Linked DNA regions of Homo sapiens: region 2 is linked to region 1. Evidence: fine-mapped expression QTL. A gene starts in region 1. The other region holds a variant in brackets. All regions are shown on one strand. Distances are from middle to middle. Region 1 holds the start of LINC00523 (long intergenic non-protein coding RNA 523). Region 2 has its middle 64 kb from the start of LINC02285.

Region 1 (8,322 bases):
TGTAGAAATCTTCACGAGATCGTTTACATTCTCCTTTTGTACTAAGTCTCTGAAGTCCCGTATGCTGCTTGCACTCACAGCACCTTTCGATTTGGTCAAACTGCATTTCAAGTGTTCAGTACCCATGTGGCTCATGGCTGCTATATCAGAGAGTGCAGGTCTAGGGTGCTTTTTAAAGCAAATGGGCGAGTGTTGAGTGTGACAATGTTGGACTGTCAAGGCCTGTAGAGTTTGGGACCCTGCTAGTCCACACTTGCCCCTGAGCCTTGCAATAATGAAATCCCTTCCTTCCTCAGGGCCAGCTGCTCCATGCACACCATATAGAATCTATACACTCTTTCCCAAGAGCTCCATGCACTATTAGGTGGGGAATCATTGGATGTCAGGAAAAGAAAGGGCAAGATAGCTCCATGGTGCCCTGGGTCGACGATGGAGAAGCATGCCTCTGAGAGCCCTCCAAGGTTAAGAAACAGGGAGTCCCCAGCACCCCTCAATCATCCTCATTCACATTGCTACTGCCCCGTTTTCCACACTTCAGTTTCCTCGGATTTCGTACTCCAGGCAGAAGCTCCAAGACGCCTAGTACTTCAGGTTTGACATCCTGCCAGCTTGGGCTCCAAGCAATGGGCTCCCCGTACATTGCGAACCGCGTGTCTCCCAAGATGAAAGACTGTAAAAAAAAGATAAAAATAGTTCCCGGGAAAGGGACTGCTTCAGCTGGCCCAGTTTGTAGAGTCCCTGTTTCATCTCTGATGTGAATAATTCATCTCTTCTAAAGTGCTGCTGTTAAGTTAGGAGCATCATTATTGCATTTTTTTTGATGAGGCACTTCTTAAAAAATCATAAACACCCAGCACATTAAGAGGAGAGCCTGAAGTACGTCATTTAGAGCCATTTGCTCAGGCAGAACCCAGCGCTTGTGATCCGTGCCGTCAGCTTGTTCCCTAAGCTGACATATCAAAGCTGCCTTTGGTTTCCTCCTTTGCTTAGACTAGGGAGTATGACCTTGCTTCTTTTGAAGAGTTTGCAGAGGTGGCCCTGGAGAAGGAAACAGTCCGGCCTGGGAAGCAGGCGGCCGGAGGGCTGGCCCTTGCTCTCTTTGGCCTCTTCTCAATTACCTTGTGAAGACAAGCACAAGTAAACAACTCTGGAGTGAGGCCAGCTCAGTATACATTCTTGAAGAAGCCGAAGGGCACTGCGATATGAATAATAATATGAGTAACAGTGACTCATGCCACCATTAATTGATCACTTACTACATGCCAGGCCGCCCACACTAAGAGCTCTAGATGCATTATCTCATTTCATCCATGCAACGCTATGAAGAGGGACACTCCTATTATACCCATTTCACAGATGAGGGCACTGAGGCACGGAGGGCAGGGATGAGTCATTTGCAGGGCTGTCTGCTCCTGTCCTTCTCCACCTCTCTCAGTGGGGAGGGACACTCCCCTCCAATTGCTGATAGTCCCTGGAATCCCAGCTGAGCCCAGAGCAGGTCTGCAAAGAGGTCACTGAACTCCGTGATAGTAAGGTCAAGGCCACCCTGAAACCAGCCATCTCCTACAGAGCCAGGCTGCCCTCCCCTTGCACACAGGCTGCCTGGGCTTAAGTTCCGCCAACAGACTTGGAGCAGGAGGGCTGCGGGCTGCCCTTTGTATGCACATGCGTCTCCAAACCAGCCTTTTTACAAAATGTATTTTAGTTGTGGGATCCTTTATTCCCGTGAATTCTTATCCAGAAGCCCAAAATGTAGAATAGATTTTCAGGGAGTTTCCCTGGTTGAAGGGAGGCATGGGGGACCCAGAGACCCCTAGAACAGCCCTCTCAGCACCCTGGACCTGGGTGAACCAATGCTCTGAGTGACTTCTTTGTTTGACGAGACGGGTCAACTGAGTCCCGGGGAGGGCAGCCACAGGGCTAACATTTACTGCGCACTTGCCGCGAGCCTCACTGTGCGGAAGCTCTCTCGTTCTCTCCGGTTACCCCGAAGCCTCAGGCTCCCCTAGTTCACCAAGCCCAGGTTTCTGGGAGTGAACCTGGTCCCGCTGCCTGCTCCACACCTTGTACATCTTTGTCTCAGGTCTCGAGGGACAGGATTGAGGTGGCCCTGTCCCTTCTGTCCCCTCCATCCCCAATGACAACTGATGGGTTCCAGGTTTTCTGTTTCCCTTTAGCAGGAAAATGGAGCCCAGAGATTTGGTCTGGCTTCCCACGTGAAAAGTCCACCTGCTACTTGGCCGGTGTAGGTGTGGGCTGACCAGGTGCCTCCTGGCCTCTGGGGCCTCCTTTCTGGCACAGTAGAGCCGGGGTGGAGGGCGGCCCCACGGGGACAAGGCTTGGCAGAGCCAGAGGTGAAGTGGCCGGCATGGCAGCTATCCACAGCTGGGCCCAGGCCTGCCCCAGTGGTAGACACAGGGGCCCAGCTCAGGCCCCATAAGGAGGAAACTAGAAACAATTTTCCTCACCTCGCACAAATCCCATCCCAAATTCCCACCCACCAGCTTAGAGGGAGCGGAGGCCTGAGCTCATCTTCTCACGTGGAGCTCGGGCATGGTGCTGGGGCCCCAAGGCCCCGGAATCCCTGTCTGGGCCTCTGATCCCTGTCTTCAGAAGGTGGCGAGCCACCCTTCCGGCCTTAGGCCTGCTGACATGGGACCCAGTGTCTGTTTGTCCAAGTTCAAGGATTATGAAATGTGGGTTATTGCCCTGCTCTGCTGATACTGGCTCTGTGGGGCCTCCATCCCAACCCCCTGATCGCAGAAGCCCCAAGCTTTCTGGAGACGCTTGGCCTCGTTTTATTCTCCCAAGAAGACCCTGCGGTGGGCAGAGCAAGACTTTTAGCCCCATCTCCCTAGCGGGAGAACTGAGGAGTCACGGCAGTGCCCTGGCCCCAGCTAGCAGAAGTCTGGCAAGCTCCAGGGATTTCGAATCCTCTTGGGAATTCTCGCAGGAGCCAGTCCCCTTTTTGCCAAGTGACTCCCACACAGACCCATCAAACTTTGCAGGTCCCCATGGGGGAGCAAACTTTGCAGGTCCCCTGCAACTGGACGGGGACAGCCCTGAGTGGTGAAGCGGGGCTCTGTGGCATATCCCCCGGCAAGGAGCCCCCCTGGCCACACCCACTGTCCAGGGATGCTGCCCCCAGCCAGACCCTCAGCCTCCTAGTCCTGGACCGAGACAGGGTGGGCTCGGGCCACACATGAGACCTCCCGTATATGTCCTGGGCTAGCACAACTGCTGGGTTGGCCAGCACTGGGCTAGGTCTGACCCCAAGATGGAATAAACAAAGGAAAATCCATGACAACTGGACTTAGCTCAGGGTGGGCCCTGCCCTGACATCCTCTCATCCCGCAGAGCTGCCCACACACTCAGGGGCATGGAGGAGCCACAGGCTGGCCAGGGGCCCAGCACCCTGGAGGACACAGAGAGGCACGGAAGTCACCTGGGCTGGAGGGGAGGAGTCAAGGCAGCCCTCCCAGGGACAAGGCCCTTCCGGCTGCAGCTGCAGAGAGGGAGGGAGGAGGAGGAGCAGGTCTGCCCTCTGTTCTGACACCAGGGGCCTTCTGGAGCTCCCCCAATGCTGCTCTCCCCATGCTCCTCCTCCCCTCCATGGCCTAGCCACCTCCCCTTTGCCCTCCTGGCTGCAGCCTCTGCTCCCCTCCCCATCCCACTTGCCTGAGCCAGCGCCACCTGGCCACATCCTGTATCTGCCCTCACTGCCACTCCCCAGGGCCCCTAGTAGCCCCCTGCTGTCCACAGGGACAGTCCCACCCCTCCCCACCGGGAACAGAGCCCAGCACCATGTGGCCCCTCAGGCTGTCCAGCTCCAGGACTCCTGTCCTGGCCACACCCTGCACTGTGGCCCCAGGTGCTTGGGGGCGTTCCCTGCACCTCCAAGCTTTAGCCACAGGTGCATCCTCCTGCTGGAAGGTTCTCCCTCCCCTCCCCACCTACTGTTCTTGCCCCAAGACTGGTCTTCATAGCCCGTCTCTGGGGCCTCTCCCCATTCCCTGGCTCATCCACAGTGAACCCCTCCTGGCTTGTCCAGACCCCACCTCACCTGGACCACAGCTTGTCACAGTTGGCCTGCATGCCAGACAGTGGCTCCTCGGGGCAATGACAGCATCTTTCTTTTCTTGAGCTTCTCTGAGGCCAGCCCAAGACACAGTTCAACCCGTGTTTGTTGAATGAATAAATGACCTACAATGGGGCCTTACCCTTTCACACCCAGGACAAAGTCATTTGCTCCCTCCAGGTTTACTTTGCTTTACTTTGCTAAACCACCACGCTTGCTCTCCTCTGCTTCACTCTTGCCTCCCACTGCCCACACCGAGTGTCCACCTTAAAGGGAACCCCAGAGCCAATGAGGGAGGCATGAAATCCTGACTTCCGACTCCTCCCCACCTGAGCTCCTCCCACTGGAACCTCCTGATGGGGCAGAAGGTTCAGGCTCACCTGAGCTGGGACCTGCCTGTGCTCCTAAGGGCATGGCCTTTCCGGCAGTTGGCTCCAAGTCACTTTGGAGAGACATTAGCATCCAGGCTCCTCTGACCCTCGAACGGGAGTTGCTTTTTGCGCCTCCCGGCAGGGAGCCCCCAGTGTCCTTGTCTTCTGGTGTCACCTGCTTCACAGCACGTCTCCCAAAATGCTTCAGAGCATTTCCATTTTTCCACGAAAGAAATGACCCGTTTCCTGGGCTCCTTTCTCCTCTGTGCCTCTGTGGCAGAGAGAGCTGCCTTTGTCGTAAAATAATTTCGGGCGCTTGCCTCTCTCTCACGCACAACTGTTCAAGGCTCTTTCCTCCGACTGACTTTCATGTCGCAAAACTCTATTAAGCTTTCATCTGCCTGGGGGAGCCGTGCCTTGAGGAACCAGGGAAGGGAAGGAGTGCTCCGGACAGTGCGCAGGGGATATGTAAATGGGTGCAGAACCCAGAGCCTGCCTCTGCCCTCCAGTCCACCCACCCGTCTCCAAGCGAGAACCGCCCTGCCTCGCGCTCCCCCGCCTGTTCTGGAAAGGGCGGTGTGAGGCAGGCAGGGCAGAGCCACCCTGAAATCCTCATCTGGATTTTTTGTTCATTCCAGTGGCAAAGAAGCTCACTCCCAGGAAACCGGGTGCATTCGAGGAAGGTGCTTTGGTGGAAAGAGCACTGGGGCAGGAGTCCAGGCCTGGGTTCGAGTGACAGCGGGTGCTGATTCCTCAGGGTTTCCACACTTCCTGGCAGGGAGGGCCTGGCTGCGTTGCCGTCTCTAATATTTGCCTAATATAGAATGGACCACTTGCTGGGACTCCACACATGTCTGAATATCCACCGCCGCAGGATTTTGTATTCCTTCTCTCTAAGAGGAACCCCCTAACTGTGTATGCTGAGATGCCACCAGGCTGGACGTCCCCATCAGAGCTGCCACATCTCCCTGCCGTGTGGCCCTGGGTGAGCCACCTTCTCTGTGTGCCTCAGTCTCCCAACTGTGTTTCCTCAGTGTTGTGAGGACTGAGTTCCATCGCAAACCACTCTCGCATGTGCCAATGGAGTGTTATGGTTTCCAAATACATGCACCCATCATGGGCTCTAATTCCCACCAAAAAAAAAAAAAAAAGCTCTGAGGTTTTCACCAGTGAGCCAGCTGATAGCAGCCAAACCAGAGCTGGGTTCAGGGTAACCAGCCTCCAACCATTTCAAAGCAGCCTTCGGACCTAACTTTCCATTTCCTCTGGGCAGCTGCTGTCCTCCAAGACTCCAGCTGGGGAAGAGAACAGCCCCATCTTCTTTCTCCACCTCTCAGCCGTGAGCTGGCTGTTCACAAATCACTCACTCTTCATTCTCACAGCAACCCTCACCAAAGCCCCGTGTCACAGATGAGGAAACTGAGGCTCCACAGCAGGAACCCGCTTTCCCAAGGCCCCATCTGTCTCCCGGTGAGCTCCTTCCCAGTGACATAGCACATGCTCTGTCTGTGCAAGTCCTGAAGCCACCACCTGTTTTACCTGACTGGAGGCTATCCTGCAGCAGGACACAGAGGGCTGGGCTGGGCTGCCTGATTCCGTTTCTGTGCTTCTGTCTCCTCTTTGCCCAGTGCTGCCAGCCAACATCCAGCTGCCCAGGGAAACTGCAGCCCCAGCAAGATGGGCCACCCTGGGCCACCCCCTGAACTTCCAGAGCCATCGGCTCTGCCCATCTGTGCCCATCTGTCTCACCTGTAACCCTAATGGCAGCCTCTGTTCAGGACCACCAGCAGGAGCCAGGCCTCCCCACACCTCACAGTGCCACCTCTCCAAACCCATCCCTGCCATCTGGAGCCCAGGGGACAGTCGGAAGCCTGCTGAGGGAGGAGGTCAGGAGATGGAGGCTAAAGGGGAGAGCACCAGAGTGAGGAGGGGCTCCAGAAGCTAGGCTGAGGGCAGACCCTGCTGCCCCCCAAAAAGTCACCATCCAGTGGGGTCATTATTTTTCAATCGGGGAGGCTTTGTACATGTATTTCTTAAAAATGAGGAGGGAAGGACGTCTGCAGGAGCGTTTCCTGTGTTGGAGTCACCAGCAGCTCACGCCTCATTGCTCCCGTCTCCTCCAGCTGTAATTAAGCCAGAGACACCAGGCACTGCTGCCTGCCCAGCTCCAGTCCCAGCACAATAATCAGCCCTCAGTTAAATGAGGAGGATAAATACAGGCAGACCGGGACTCCAAGGACAACAGCCCCCGGTTACCGTCCTCCACAGACCCGGACCACCACCCAGCTGCCTTGGTCGCTGAGCAGTCAGAGGATGGACAGAACATGCAGGGCCTCCTTGGTGGGAAGCCACGGACAGGGGGGGCCCCCCACGCAGGGCCTCAGTTTTCTCATCTGTAATATGGGGGAGCAGACAAGTCCCCCACGTTACCCTCTGCAGGCCTCGCTGTGGTCCTCTCCACTTTAGCCGTCACCTCTTGGCCTCCTGAGTCAGACCTGCAGAGGCAGGCCCGGGAATCTGCACTTCCCGAGATGCCCCAGGGAGCCCCTCCGTGGAACCACGTGTGCCAACGCCTGGGAGGAGGGCAGGTGGCCAGAGGATCCTGGGGTCCCTCTCCCAGCCCAACCCCACCCCCAGGCCCTGTGGCTGCTCCCCCTCTGCAAAGGCACCAGGAGGGAGGTCAGGCCCTGGCGGAGCCAGCCACGCAGGTCAGTGCCCCGGGCAAGTGGGTGCTGCGGTGGCCTCGGGCCACAAGGGGGCAGAGGCGGCCAGCGAGGCCGCAACCTTCGCTCAGGTGAGCCGGGTCCGCTGCGCTGCGCTGCGCGCCGGGGTCCTGCACCCACGCTCTTCGCCGCAGAGGAGACCCCGGGGGGCAGGGTCGGGCGGGGGCCTCTCCGTGTGGCCTGGGTGGTCCTCGGGTCCTCAGCCCCTGCCCCCGCCTCTTCTGGAAAGCTCCTCACAACGCTGCCCGGCCCTGCTGCCTCCCAGCCCCGACACAGGAATCCCATCTCACTCCAGCGCCCGCCCTCCCCTTCCACGGTGCAGGCGGCTTCATCCCTGCTGAGTCTAATTCCACCCTCATTCGCCCCATTTCACAGAAGGAGTAAACTGAGGCCGAGAGAGGGCAGGGGCTGGAGCCAAGGCCCTCCCTTCTGGAGCAGCAATCCTAGAATTGGGAAACTTTGCCTTTTGTTATGGTAAGAAATGCTGTTGAGAATTTCTTAATTCCCCTTTGGAAAAGACAGGTTGTGCTGTGTGCAGAAATCGTTATTCAAAAATTACAGACTCTAGTTGTTTCTATGGAAACATTTTTTCACCTTATGCAAATGAAGCAAGAGGCATGAAAACAACGCCTTCCCTTTCTGCCCCCCTCCACCAACTTTCTTTTTGGAACCTTGAAAAGCTGCTGCTGAAAGTTTCGTCCTCTGTAGGGGTGCTGAAGGCGGCCTCTGACACTGGGGAGAGTTTGCTTCATTAACTCGGGGACCTTTGTGACCCTGGGCCGAGCCGAGACTCAGGGTTCCCCGGCCAATTACTCTGAGGCCCAGCTCCATTTACTCCCACTCTGATCATTACAGAGTGGTGGGTGGCAAATGTCACTCCAGAGTGTCTCCCCTGCCCCCTTGAAGGGGAACCCCTGCTTCCCACCACGATTCCTTCAGGAAGCCCCACAGCAGGAGGGAAACCCCCCACCGCTCAGAGCACCCATCGTTTACCCAGCCTGGACTGGCATTCTTTTGAGGAGCCAACCTCTGCACCCACTCCTGCACTCATCTCTGCCTCCACGGGGGCTCCCAGAGCCAAGGGACAGGAATGTTGGGCATATCTTTCCTCTGGTTTTGATTCAAGCCCCCACATTGGTGCCTTCCAACT
Region 2 (8,322 bases), 530 kb before region 1:
ATTTTCCTTTTTTTCTTTTCCTTTTCTTTTTTTGGTGCTCAAGTCTGAAGTTCTTTTCAATATGTCAGGCTTTTCAAAAAATGATTAAAATGCACCAGATTATTAAATAGAGCTGCTTCAGACTTAATTTAGCAAACTGTAACATTTTTATCATTTTTATAAAGCCCTTTTTAATGAAAACCGTCTGCAAGGAGACCAAATATCGAGGCTGAAATCATGTTTTCTCTATATTTGTTATCCCTGAAGATGTTGTTCCCAGATTTTACAGAAATAATAAATTTCATTTAGAAGTTTGGGCCTCCGCAGCCGTGCCACACATCTCTGAATTTTCCAATTTGCAGTGCGAGAAGCTCATCCCACTGTAATTTCTCACGCTTGCCAGCTCCTGACCGCAATTTCATACCTTCCTTGCCTCTTTGTAAATGTAGACCTTGTAGCAACATTCGACCCAATATGTTTATTCTACATGAGCCCAAAAAACGTTGTTCTAATGAGCATAAACATATTTTCTCAGTGACAAAATGTTTTCATCCTGTGGCTCCTGATTTTACAGGTCACTGCTTTGTGCTATTTCCCACAGGTCGTCCCCTCAGCCACCGGGAATTAGGCAGGAGGCGTCCGAGCTGGCTTTACACCATACAGGGTGTCATCTGTTTCGGTGTTGTGTGTGCCTGTCAGACATCCAAGCCTGTCCTGGACACCCCTCCAGTGACACCTCATTAACAGAGGTGAGACTTCCAGCCCCAGAAATTGTGTTTGCCATAAAACTACCTCGAAAGTGATTTCTCAGGTCCAAGGCCTGCGACCTGTCTTGGTGGCCGTCTGATGGCCTGTCTCCATGTTGGAAGCAGAGGTGGCTGGAGCCCGAGCTGCCCTGTGAAGTGGGCCAGGCCCTGTGGCCATGGCTGGCCAAGGTCATGACTGGCACACAGCCAGTCAGAATTACGCCTGAGAGCCAAGGTAGTGGGGCGTGGCGGGGGTGGGAGTGCTAACCTGGTTTGGCCCCTCTGGCTTCTGGAGTTTGGCTACAGAAGTCAGGTGGGGTCACGGGGCCAGGTAGTTCCTCCCTGGCTCCTCCTGGAGGGCGTCTTGTTAACTCTGATCTCTGGAGAGCAGAAGAGGGTTTGATGAGTACAGTGGAGCCCACAGCATAGAAAGGGCATCTGTCCTTCGGATCCCCCAAAGCCAACATCCTAACACTAGTCAGAGTCTGTAGGCCAGTCCGGTTCTCTTCAGCAACTGGGCTTTGGCTGGATTCTGAGAGCACCTCCAGTTCCTCCTCTCTGACGATCGAATTGGGAGGCAATCTGTGGCCAGGGGCACCCCTCTCTGCTGTGATTTCAGCCTCCAGGTGCTGCTGGTCCCAGGATGGGTTTGTATCTCCTGCTTTGCACCTGACTTGCAGGCATCACAGGTGCAATTGCTCTCAGTGCACTTTGGGTGCCCAGTTTTTTATCGAGGACTGGAAGTAGGGTCACCAACCATCCTGGCTTGCCTGGGACTGAGTTTTCTGGGATGCAAGACTTTCGGAGTTAAAATCAAGAGAGTTCCGGGCACACCAGGGAGGCAGATAAGCAGCGTTTATGCCGCCGCCTTTGGTGAAAAGTCATTTTCTGTAGGGGGGCCAAGTGGAACGTATCTCTCCTCCACCATACTGCAGGAGCATGGACGCCAGGGCACACCCTGCGTAACACTGTAAGTGTTCCCCGGCTGCTTCCAAGTGCCAAGGGATGTTCTCTCCACTTCTTCTTCATCCAAGAAGTTTAGGCAAACCAGCACATTACTGTCTGGGGTCATTCTCAGTCCTCAGCACCAGGGGACTGGCACCCAGGGAGCTTGATTCCATGAGTAACTGGCCTTCCCAAGAGGCCAGTTCTCTCAACACACTTGGGAAGAGACCGAGGCCAGAGGGGACAAGACTGGCCCACTGTCACTCAGTGAGTTGGTGACACTGTGGGGATCTGGACAGACCCCAGGGCACTGACCTCCCAGCACAAGGCTTTTTCTACCATGCACCTTGCCACGACCTGGCCCCAGCAGACCCCCCACATTCTCCTCCCAAGAAGCGAGGCCAACTTTCAGTTCAGCTGAGGTCACCCAGAACTCCCGGTGGCTTTTGTCACATCCAGCCTTACACTCCCATCAGTGCCAATGTCCCCAACCAGCCCTACCACCAAACTAGCAATCTTCTGAACCCCATGCTGTGAAGAACAAAGGACCAATTCAGCCTCCTGGGCAGGGAAGGGGTCTCATTAAGGCCCTGGGAGCCAACGTGGGGGCTGAGGTATTGTTTTTAATGGAATAACAAGAATTTGCTGTTATGTGTTAGATTAAAGGCTTTATCCTGGGGAATTAATCGGATTGCTACTGGCCTTGAGTCGCATAGCCTTTGACTTCACATCCTCAGAGAAGTCACAGACCAGGGCTGTGAAATTGGTTCATTTCTCTTTCTGGTATTTAATGAAGCCCCAGACAGCCGTGGCACGGCATCTCCTCCCCAGGGCGGCTGTGAATTACCTCTCACCTGCACTGGCGACAGTCTCTGAGCACTCACCAGCCCACCCCCCTCCTCCGCTAATCCATCCAAGACACACTGCCAGATTCATCCTCGGAAAACATAGCTCTGGTCACGAACTGCTCAGAAGCCTGGGTCTGCCCACCGCCTCCAGAATAATCTTCAAATTCTCCCATCCCCTGAGCTCCTGTTTCAACAAACTTCAACTTTTTATTGGAGTATAATACACAGGTGGAATAGTACATGGATTGGAGGTGTACATATTGAATTTTCACAGAGTAGCGGTGCAGGCCTCTAGCCATCCCCCAGAACAAGAAACAGAACCATGCCAACGCCCCAGAAAACCTCCCACCACACCTCCCTTCCGGTTGGCAGCCTTCTGTCCCAGGGGTGACAATTACTCTGCTTTCCACACTATTTTTAAGTGGTTTTTACATTTTTATACATGAAATTATACAGTACGTTGTGTATGCTTTTGTGTTCAATATGCTTTAAAAAGGTGGCCTCTCCTTCCAGCTCTGCATACCCCACACAGCCAGGAAATAGTAGGCACCTCCCAGACAGACCCCACCATGCGACCCTGCTCCTCTGGGCATCTATCATGCCTCAAATCCTTGACTATCTGATCAGGAGCCCCCTTTTCCAGGAAGCCCCTCTGGATTCCCCTGCATGCTGAGAGCTGCTTCCTACGGGTAGAAACTTCCCCCGTGTGAATCTCTGGTTAGACCGGGAGCTGCTCAGGGATGGGGACTCCTGGGGGTACCTGTCTAAGGACTTGCCTCCCAAGGGGAAGTTTGTCCATAAACAATAGTGCTTGCCAGTCCATTATGAGTTCCCGTTTCTTCCTCTATTGTAGTGTATCCTGTCTCAAGGCATGAGTTTGCTTGTCATTGTCATCATGGATTTCAGATGGTGGTATAGTCTCCTGGGAAAGAGAGGGAGGAACCAAGAAAGAAGCCAGGAAGAGAGGGAGGGAAAGAAGAGGGTGGCTAAATGTTTGAAGGCCTACTATGTGCAAACCCTTGTGGTCACTATGCTGCTATTGCCTGGTTCCATCGTCTCAACCACCTCCTGAGGTGAGTTCAATTTCCCTACAAGCTGTGTGGCCCTGCACAGGTTGCTTGACATCTCTGAGCCTCTGTTTTCTCCTCTGTAAAGTGGGGATCATGGAACCCACCTTGCAGGCTGCTGTGTGGACAGGTGATAGTGAGGCCAAGAGCTGGCCCGGGGCTGGGGGCACGGGAGGCCGCCAAGTCACAGCTGTGATCACAACCTCGATGTCCTGTCTTTGCATCTCACCTTGGAGGAAGGAGGAAAGCCAGAGAAGCTCTTCCCACCCCGGGAGGAAGCTGGGCAAATCTCAGCACCTCCTTCCTCCTCTTGCAGACTCTGCTGGGTGTGACCCAGTTGAATATCTCTGGAAGCCCCCGCAGCTAAGCAGGGGCCATTCCATTTCTTCCAATCTTGTCCAAGGTGAGGGTCCAGCCCAGGGGGGAGGACTGGGCCATGGTGGCTCTGGGCACCCCCGGCACCCCTTCCCTGAGGTCTGCATATCTCCAAGAGGAAGGGACACACTGGAACTGCCTGGGAGCTGGCAAGAGGTTTAGATCTCTGCTTGGCACAAGACACAGAGGTCCGGTTGCTGCTCTGCTGAGGTGAAAGCCGGGATCGGTGGGGCCTCGGGTGTAGTTTCTAAGGAAACGTCTTTCCGCCACACCTTCATTGTCGGTGACTGAGACCCCAGAGTTCTATCTTCCATCTGGCAAAAATCTGTGAAAGTTAGTTCCTATTTCATACCCAACAAATACCCTAAAGGGACTGAAGATTTAATAAATGACAAATAGCTAGAGCATTAGAAAAGGGAAGAAAAATACCGGACCCTCAGATGGGGAAGGCTTTCCAAGCAAGATGCAAAATCCAGATGCCGTGAAGGAAAATAATAACCAATGTAAGATCATGAGACCACTGAGTGCTGAAAGACACACACACATACACATGTACACACACATACACACAGGCACACACACAGATGCGCACACACACACACACAGGCACACACACAGATGCACACACACACGCACACACACAGATGCACATGCACACACACACGCCACACACACAAACACTCGCACACACACACACACAGACTAAAATTAAAAGATAAATAACAAACTGGAGGAATATAGTTGAATGTTTCTGATAGACAAAAGAGCAATACCCTTAATAAACAAAAAAGTTATAAATTAATTGAAACAACTCTCAATAGGAAAATGGACAAAGGCTCCAAGGAGGCAATTCACAGGAGAGCAGTAAAAATAGCCAGAAACATCTGAAGAGTTTCTTGACCAGAGAATTTTACATTACAAAATGAAACAATGAGATGTGGGGTTCCTTTTGCTGCTGACATCGGCCCAAGAGTTCCTGT[T/C]TGACAGTAGCCAGGGCTGACAAGGGTGTGAGCAGCAGGTGCAAGCCTGTGCATCCACGCCGCGTGCGTGCCTGTCTAGGGAGGGTGCTTAGGAAGAATCTTCCACGATGAAAAATGCAGCAACCCCCGGACGCAGCCGTGGGTTGTAGGGATCCGGCAGGACCTGCTGCAATGTCTTTCTCTGGGTCTCAGCAGGACACATCTTGTCCACGCATGCCTGTTCGTCTTTAATGCTCTCACCTTAGATCCCATAAAACTGGGGCACCCCCCCCATCACCCATGTGAAGAGAGGTGGGGCCCAGGGCAGGTTCAGTGCACGTGGGGCACTCCTGCTGTGACCGCTCCCTGCAAAGCCTTTTCCCCTGCTGGGTCCACCTCATTCTGGAGGACACCCCCAGATCTCAGGCCATGCATGTGTGTTCAGGCCTGGGTGCAGTCACAGCTCTCAGGGTGGTCGCAGTGGCAGCTGCTGGGTCTGGGGTTGGGGACCTTGGCCGGGCAGGCTCCATGAGGCTCTCCTGTGCATGAGCTGACTCACATGCGTGCTTGTGGGGCCTGTCACACCGGTTCTGGGGATGGCAACCCGGGATGAGCGCCCCTCAGCCTTTCCATGGGGCCCAGAGCCTGCCAAAGGTGGCAGATACTTCAGGCCTGGAGTGGGGTTGCTGCCGGCCTCCCAGCTGCTGACAGCCTCCTGGGAGAGACCTATGCCTTCCCTGCAGGTGGCCGCTGTGCTAGACGCTCACATGTGTGGCCTGGGCGGGCTGGGCCGGAGGTCCCGGGCATCCCTGCCCCGCGGTCCTAGTGTGAAGGCTGCACTGCCCACCAGGTGGCCTGGCTCCAGGACTGGAAAGAGAGGACCCTTCCTGCCCAGGGTTTCTCTCCAAGCCCACAGCGCCTGGGGAAAAGCAGCCCCTCGTCCGCAGCCGCAGCTCATGGTGCCCCCTAGCGGGATCCGGGCTGGCGGCAGCTGCATGAGCAGGGCTTTGGGGTGGGTGGGAGCAGCCTGGCTCTGCTGTCCCTGCAGCCTGGGCCTGGGGCCTGTTGCACAGGGAGATGCCCCTAGAAATGAAAGGAAATGAGAAAGTGAGGAGGACCCCGGGACCAGAGATGCAGAGGAGGGAGGGAGAGGGGCCAGGGGGAAGGAAAAGGAAGAAAGGGAGTGGGGAAGGAAAGGGACAGAGACTCAGAGACTGAGAAGGGGGAGGATAGTGGAAGAGGGGAAGGGAAGAAGGAGCAGGGGTAGGCAGGGAGGGAAAGAGGGGAAGGGGAGGGAGGGAAAGAGGGGAAGGGGGGCAAGGAAAGCCCTGAACCAGGGCAGGGAGAGACGGAGCTGGAGAAGATGCCAAGGGTGTTCCCCACCCCTGACTCTTCCATTCATCCTGAAAGTGATTTGGACACACATCTGCCTCACTCTCTCAGGGAAATGGTTTTCTTGTCTATGAGTGGGTTTGAACACCTGACCCCTCCCTGCCCCAGTGCATCTTGCAAATCCCTTAAACTTGTCAGGAGACATAGTCGCAGCCTCTGCGATGGTCTCTGGAGACTCTGGCCTCCTGGTGTTCACACCCAGAGTAATCCCCTCCCCTTCAGTGGGAGCTGGTCTTAGTGATGGCCTCTCATGAGTACGATAAGCAGACATGATGGGACATCACTTCTAAGATCAGGTTTTAAACACCATGGCTTTCGCCTTTGGGTCCCCCCTCCATTAGATCTCTCACTCTGGGGGAAGGAAGCTGCCATGCTCTGAGGCTGCCCTGTGGGGAAGCCCATGTGGCCAGGGACCAGGGCCTGCCCATAGCACATGTATGGACTTGGGAGTAGAGCATCCCCACACCAGTCGAGTCTCTGATGAGACCATAGCCCCAGTCAACAGGCTCATCACAGCCTGTGACAGACCCTGGGACAAAGGCACCCAGCTGAGCCATCCAGGTATTCCTGATGCTCAGAACCTGTGAGATGATGAATGTTTTTGGTCCCCAGCTGCTAAATTTTGGGGTTATTTGTTACACAGCCACAGACAGCTAATACAGGAGCCCCCCAGGGAGAACAAAGGGGTCTGCCTCTGAGGGAGTGTGGGCACTGGCCGGTCACTCTCTGGACACTCTCTGGCCTTGGGAGCTCTCTTGGTTCCAGCCTTGGGGTTCCAGATGGGGAAACAGGCCTGGAACAGGGTGGCATTTGCCTGAGGTCTCCCCTGCTTTGGTCAGGGGCTGGAGTGCCTTCCTTGGCGGGCCTGACTTTGGGACTTAGAGACACTAGGTCCTCAAGGGCTCTGCTGGGGGAGATATGCTGCAGGCTGTTGGTGCAGTCACAAGAGAAGGTCCTTGGACCCTGGCAAGGGCAGGCACAGGGCAGGTGCTGACCAGGAGGACAGCATCCTTCGACCTCCCCTGGCCCCTCACTCTCCGTTCCTCATAATGGAAGTGATTTGGGGAAGGTAGGGTTGGAGGGAGTGGGGCTGGGGTCAGGGCAAGGGTATGCACTGGTCTCTGTGATTTGGCTAAATGGTGGTCCTGCAGGTGGCTTAGAAGGCTTAATTCCCCACCCACACCTCCCACTATAAGTGAGGAGCTGGGGCCCGGGAAGGAAGGAAGTGGCTCAAGCTCACAGCAGAAGCTCTGCAGAGTGGTGAGCAGGGCCACTGAAGCCTCCAAATCCATGGGCCCTGGAAACAGCTCCCCACTTACCCCACAAACCCTCACTACATCTGGAGACCAGAGCTGGCCAAGAAGGAGAAGGAAGTGGGGAGCCAGACATGCCCACATCTGCACCTCAGGTCTGAGGCTGATGGGTCTCCCCACTTCCCCACACATCCTCTTTGGGCCCCAGTTCTGAGCCATGGTGAGCACTCTGGGCATCACACTCGACAGAAATGATGATTTAGGCACACCAGATAAGACACAGGGTGCCTGATTAAGTGGGAATCCCAGACAACCAATGAATAATTTTTAGATATAAGGATATTCATGCAATATGTGGGATATACTTATACTAAAAAAGTATCTATTGTTTATCCGAAATTCCGACTTCACAAGGCATCCTTTTTCTCATTTGCAAAATCAGGCAATCCTATGACAAGGGCAGGCAGGCTCCATACAGGTGGCTGTGAGCCTCTGGCTTTGGGCCATGTCACACTATTCCTTAATTGGGTATGGGAGTTAGGGACTTAGCAGGGAAGAGCTGGAGTCTGATAACTAAACACCAGCACCTCTTGTTGATAACTAAACACCAGCACCCCTTGCTGATAACTAAACACCAGCACCCCTTGCTGATAACTAAACACCAGCACCCCTTGTGATAACTAAACACCAGCACCCCTTGCCATCTTGGGCTGGATTTCAGCCCTCACCTCTTCATACCCTGGGCCTTGAGCAGGCAA

Evidence for each region.
Region 2: its variant is fine-mapped to the expression of LINC00523 in adrenal gland (GTEx, PIP above 0.99).

Annotation. Positions count from the first base shown.
Region 1 is chr14:100,653,847-100,662,168 of GRCh38, reverse strand. It overlaps LINC00523 (long intergenic non-protein coding RNA 523), which reads right to left and starts at 4,901. Exons shown (of 2, transcript NR_024096.1): 1 at 4,459-4,901. RefSeq lists an enhancer at 448-1,647.
Region 2 is chr14:101,181,012-101,189,333 of GRCh38, reverse strand. No RefSeq gene overlaps it. Among named protein-coding and RNA genes, the nearest start is that of LINC02285, 64 kb to the right of the region's middle. RefSeq lists enhancers at 4,953-5,585, 5,586-6,219. The variant T/C (reference allele first, on the strand shown) is at 4,941.